Regions from separate parts of the Homo sapiens genome. Here region 1 is linked to region 2. Evidence: fine-mapped expression QTL. A gene starts in region 2. The other region holds a variant in brackets. All regions are shown on one strand. Distances are between the middles of the regions.

Region 1 (2,905 bases), 24 kb before region 2:
GGTCCGGAGTTCAAGACCAGCCTGGCCAACATGGTGAAATCCCATCTCTACTAGAAAAAAAAATTAAAAATTGGCCGGGCACGGTGGCTCATGCCTATAATCCTAGCACTTTGGGAGGCTGAGGCGGGCGGATCACCTGAGGTCAAAAGTTTGAGACCAGCCTAACCAACATGAAGAAACCCTGTCTCTACTAAAAATTAGCCAGGTGTGGTGGTGCGCCCCTGTAATCCCAGCTACTCGGGACGCTGAGGCAGGAGAATTGCTTGAACCCGGGAGGCGGAGGTTGCAGTGAGCTGAGATCGCACCACTGCTTTCCAGCCTGGGCAACCGAGGGAGACTATGTCTCAAAAAAAAAAAAGAAAGAAAAGAAATTGTATAAGGTGGGGCACAGTGGCTGTCTGAGGGAAGGCTGGGGGCCTGGACCCCAAATGCGAGCACAGGGAGGGGAAGGCCAGACGAGGAGAGATCAGACCCCAGGGGACTGAGAGTGGAGGTGGGAAAGGTCACCGTCCTCTGACCTGTGTTTGCGGCCTGGCTTCCCCGGCAAGATGCTGGAGAACCAGGTGACTGCCTGCCCCCAGGTCGGTGCTGGGAAGCAGGACCTGAACCGGAAGCCTGGGTCCCCGGAAGGGTGTGGGGGACAGGGTTCCCCAGCCGCCACTCACAGCAATCACGATGTCCCGCATGTGAGGGAACTCCTCGGGGTGCAGGAAGGCTGTCAGCTCCTCTCGAGTGGCCATCGAGTCCCCATCCTGGTCGGCCACCCGGAAACGCCGCTCGTCCCGAGCCAGCATCTTTTTGTAGGTCTCTGCATCCTCCACGTCATGAAATTCTTCACCTGGGGAAGGACAGGTCTCAGTGAGATGAGCTTTAATGGAGGAAACGCCAAGCAGGTTAAAACAAAGACAAAGTAAATCCTACTGGGGTACAAAGATTTCTGTGGAGTTAATAAGTATATATCAGTAGGCTGGATGCAGTGGCTCACGCCTGTAATAGCAGCACTTTGGGAGGCTGAAGCTGGCAGATCACTTGAGGTCAGGAGTTTGAGACCAGCCTGGCCAACATGGCGAAACCCCATCTCTACCAAAAAAATACTTAGCCGGGCATGGTGGGGCACGCCTGTAATCCCAGCTACTCGGGAGTCTGAGGCACAAGAGTCGATTGAACCCAGGAAGCGGAGGTTGCCGTGAGCTGAGACTGCACCACTGCTTTCCAGCCTGGGCGACAGAGGGAGGCTATGTCTCAAAAAAAAAAAAAAAAAAATTTTAGAAGCCTGGCACAGTGGCTCACACCTGTAATCCCAGCACTTTGGGAGGCCGAGGTGGGTGGATCGCCTGAGGTCAGGAGTTCGAGACCAGCCTGGTCAACATGGTGAAACTCCTTCTCTACTAAAAATACAAAAATTTGCCTGGCATGGTGGTGGGCGCCTGTAGTCCTAGCTACTCGTGAGGCTGAGGCAGGAGAATTGCTTGAACCCAGGAGGATGAGGTTGTAGTAAGCCGAGACCTTGCCATTGCACTGCAGCCTGGCCAACAAGAGTGAAACTCCATTCCATCTCAAAAAAAAAAAAAAAAAAAAAAA[AG/G]TAGGCCGGGTGCGGTGGCTCAAACCTGTAATCACAGCACTTTGGGAGGCCGAGGTGGGCAGATCACCTGAGGTTGGGAGTTCGAGACCAGCCTGACCAACATGGAGAAACCCCATCTCTACTAAAAATACAAAATTAGCCAGGCGTGGTGGCGCATGCCTGTAATCCCAGCTACTTGGGAGGCTGAGGCAGGAAAATCGCTTGAACCCGGGAGGCGGAGGTTGCAGTGAGCCGAGACCACGCCACTGCACTCCAGCCTGGGCAACAAGAGCAAAACTCCCTCACAAAAAAAAAAAAGCATATATTGATACTTTATATATAATTTGTATATATATTTAAGTATATAATATGTTATATAACATATTATTAGTATGTGTGTGTATATCTATATCTATCTATCTATCTATCTATCTATATATATATATATTTTTTTTTTTTTGAGACAGAGTCTCACTCTGTCGCCAAGGCCAGAGTGCAGTGATGTGATCTCGGCTCACTGCAACTTCTGCCTCCTGGGTTCAAGTGATTCTCTTGCCTCACCCTCCAGAGTAGCTGTGATCACAGGTGCACACCATCACGCCCAGCTAAGTATTTTTTTGTGGTAAGACGGGGTTTTGCCACATTGGCCAGGCTGGTCTCTAACTTCTGATCTCACGTGATCCACCCACCTCGGCCTCCCAAAGTGCTGGGATTACAGGCGTGAGCCATGGCACCCAGGCTATGTAACATATTATATCCACCCAATAAATTAGCTAACTTGTGAGAGATTATATGCTAAGCTCTTTATGCACAATATTGCATTTAATCATCACAAAAAAGCACATACAGTGGGTTTTTCCATGTATTCTACTTTCTGAATGCAAAAATTGATTCTCAGAGAGAAGAAATAACTGATCCAAGCGTGTGGAGACAGGAATGGCCCACTATGAGTTGACAGTGGGCCTTTTGGCCCCAGACTAAGGCTGTGATGGGGTAGCTTACAGGGACTGAGATGGCTTGACTGAGAGGAGGGGACGGGCATTGTAACTGGAGGGAACAATATGGGCAGAAGGTAGAGGTTTGAAGAGTGTGGTGAGTTCAGGAAAACCACAGAAAATCCATTTGGTGCAGAAAATGCAGAAAAACAAAGCCACAGGAGGAAACGTCCCGGCTGGGGAGTGGGACCGTCTCCTGGGGGCCCAGGAGGGGGAGGGAGGGGCAGAGTCAGTGCTGGGCATGAAGAACCCCGCCCCCGGAGCCCTGTGGAGGACAGACTGGACGGGGAGGCTGGGGCCAGGGACAGAGAGGAGAGGAGGGAGAGAATGAGGGCTGTGTGTGTGGCAG
Region 2 (2,905 bases):
CAGGGCTCCGCCTCGCCCCGCAGGCTATTGTAGCTCAGGTACTGCTGCGGGCCCAGCCAGCCGGACACCCAGAAGGCAGGAGTCCCCGGGGCAGGCGAGGACACCGCGGTAAGGTGGTACAGGAGGGAGAGGTGGCTTTCTGCAGACAGAAACAGAGCTGAAGGGAGCACACGGGCGGGGAACTAGACTGCAGTGGGACAGATACCCAGGGAGGGAGAAGAATCTATTATGGAGGGAGGGGGACAGATTCAGAGAGAGGGGACAGAAACCCGGGGGGGGGGGGACAGAGACCCAGAGAGAGAGAGACAAGAGACCCAGAAAGAGAGGGGGACAGAGACCCAGAGAGAGAGAGGGAAACAGACACAAGAGGCGACAGGTGGTTCCCAGCCTCAGGCCCAGCAGGAGACGTTGAGAAAGTTAATTGAGCGGAGAAGGCAGCGCCAGGGGCTCGCGGGGAACTCGGGTCCCGCTGGCTTCGCCCCTGCCTGCCTGGGGCCGCCTCCCGCCGCCCGCCTGCAGCAGGGCCCTGGCCCGGAGCGGCCCTCACCTGCGCCCAGGCTCCCAGGAAGGAGAAAGAGCAGGAGCCCCAGCGCCCAGGGCTGAGGCCGCGGGACCCCCATGCTGAGAGGACGACCTGGGGCGGGAGGGGGCACGTGACTCCTCCCGACCCCCGGCCCGCCCCTTCCTCCCGGGACACCGCGGGCACGGCCGGGACCAGGACGCCGAGGAGGGGCTCTGCGGGCTCGGTCCAGACTGACAACAATGCCCTCCTCGTACCTGAAGAACTTTCACCCCTGAACTGGATCTCAGTTGGTTAATTAATTACAGACACTTGATAGGCTGAGAGTCCCGGCCCCGAGCTCCGCCACGCCCCTTCCGCCCCCCTCAGGCCCCAGCCCCTCCTCCCTCAGACCCCGGAGTCCAGGCCCCCAACCGCTCTTCCCTCGGACCCAGGAGTCCGGGCCCCCAACCGCTCTACCCTCGGACCCAGGAGTCCGGGCCCCCAACCGCTCTACCCTCGGACCCAGGAGTCCGGGCCCCCAACCCCTCCTCCCTCGGACCCAGGAGTCCAGGCCCCCCCGGCCCCTCCTCCCTCCTCCCTCAGACCCAGCGTCCAGACCCCCAGTCCCTCCTCTCTCAGACCCAGGAATCCAGGCCCCCACCCCTCCTCCCTCAGACCCAGTGTCGAGACCCCCAGCCACTCCTCCCTCAGACCCAGGGTTCCAGGCCCCCAGCCCCTCCTCCCTCAGTCGGGCCCTGGTCGGCTCACGTTCCCTTCAGCCTCGCTCCCTTCCTGCCTGCGGCCCTGGCCGGCTCCTGGCTCCCGTGACTGGAGACCCCAGTTCCTCTCTCACATCCTGTGGGAGGCTGCTGCTCCCTGACTCCAAGAACATCCAGCCCCACCCCCCAGTTGCAGGGCACACCCCAGGCCCTAGGCCCAGCCTGTTTGTTTCTCAAAACGCTTGTGGTTCTTCTTTTTCCTTCTCTGTGGTTCCCGTTTTTTACTTTGAGGGTGTCTGCCGCTCAGGGAATTCTTGACAAAACTGGGAAAGGAACTCGATGCCTCCGGAGTCCACAACTTGGAGGTCTCTGGATCCTCCTCCTACCCCTCTGTATCCCCGTGGCCTTCCCTAGCGCTCGCTGTTAATCAAAATCTTCTGGAAGCCTCCTTAGTTCCTCCTTCAAGCCCTTCCCCCGGCATCCCCTTAAAAAATTCCTGCAGGTGCTCTTTAATATCCTTCTGCGGGCCGGGCGCAGTGACTCACGCCTGTAATCCCAGCACTTTGGGAGGCCAAGGCGGGCGGATCACGAGGTCAGGAGTTCGAGACCAGCCTGGCCAATATGGTGACACCCCCGTCTCTACTAATAATACAAAAATTAGCTGAGCGTGGTGGTGGGCCTGTGGTCCCAGCTACTCGGGAGGCTGAGACAGGAGAATTGCTTGAACCCGGGAGGTGGAGGTCGCAGTGAGCCGAGATTGCACCACTGCACTCCAGACTGGCAACAGAGCGAGACTCCGTCTCAAAAAAAAAAAAAAACCACATCCTTCTGCTAGGACTTCAGTGACCACATGGTCCCCATACAATGCTGCCTCACTCGAAGGCCCCTCCAGGCACCAGCCCCCGCCCACACTCCTGCTACAAAGCTTCCCATACACTTATTTCATTGTGGTAAAATATTCAAAATATTTACCCTTACTGTCATTTAACACATTTACAGTGCTGTGCAACTGTCACCTCTATCCGAGTTCCAGAGCTTTTTTATCACCCCAAACAGAAGGTCTGTCCCCGTTAAACAGCCGCTGCTCCCAGACCCCTGGCAACCATTCATCTGCTTTCTGTCTTGATAGATTTGCCTATTCTGCACATTTCAAAGAAATTGAATCATATAATATGAAGTCTTTCCTTCCTTCCTTCCTTGCCTCCTTCCTTCCTTCCTTCCTTGCCTCCTTCCTTCCTTGCCTCCTTCCTTCCTTCCTTCCTTCCTTCCTTCCTTCCTTCCTTCCTTCCTTCCTTTCCTTTTTTTTGACAGGGTCTGGCTCTGTCACTCAAGCTAGAATGCCGTGGAGCGATCATGGCTCACTGCAGCCTCAACCTCCCAAGCTCAAGCACTCCACCTGCCTTAGCCTCTCAAGGAGCTGGAATTACACACACTTGCCACCAGGCCCAGCTAATTTTTGTATTTTTGCAGAGATAGTGTCTTGCTATGTTTCCCAGGCTGGTCTCAAACTGCTGGGCTCAAGACAGCCTCCCACCTTGGCCTCCCAAAGCACTGGGATGACAGGTGCAAGACACCCATGCCTGGCCTGTTTTCAGCTCTATTGAGCATACATCTGGGAGTGGAACTGCTGGTCAGGTAGTTCAGGTTCTCTAGAGAAACAGAATCCACAGAATGTGTATATGCA

Evidence for each region. PIP is the estimated chance that this variant, and not a neighbour inherited with it, causes the effect.
Region 1: its variant is the best candidate, but not a certain one, in a credible set for the expression of FCGRT in whole blood (INTERVAL, PIP 0.70).

The regions. Positions count from the first base shown.
Region 1 is chr19:49,534,966-49,537,870 of GRCh38, reverse strand. It overlaps RCN3 (reticulocalbin 3), which reads right to left. Exons shown (of 7, transcript NM_020650.3): 4 at 666-838. Among named protein-coding and RNA genes, the nearest start is that of RCN3, 8.4 kb to the right of the region's middle. The variant AG/G (reference allele first, on the strand shown) is at 1,582.
Region 2 is chr19:49,511,116-49,514,020 of GRCh38, reverse strand. It overlaps FCGRT (Fc gamma receptor and transporter), which reads right to left and starts at 1,360. Exons shown (of 7, transcript NM_001136019.3): 1 at 1,271-1,360; 2 at 548-634; 3 at 1-139. The coding sequence starts at 620. RefSeq lists an enhancer at 1,778-2,340.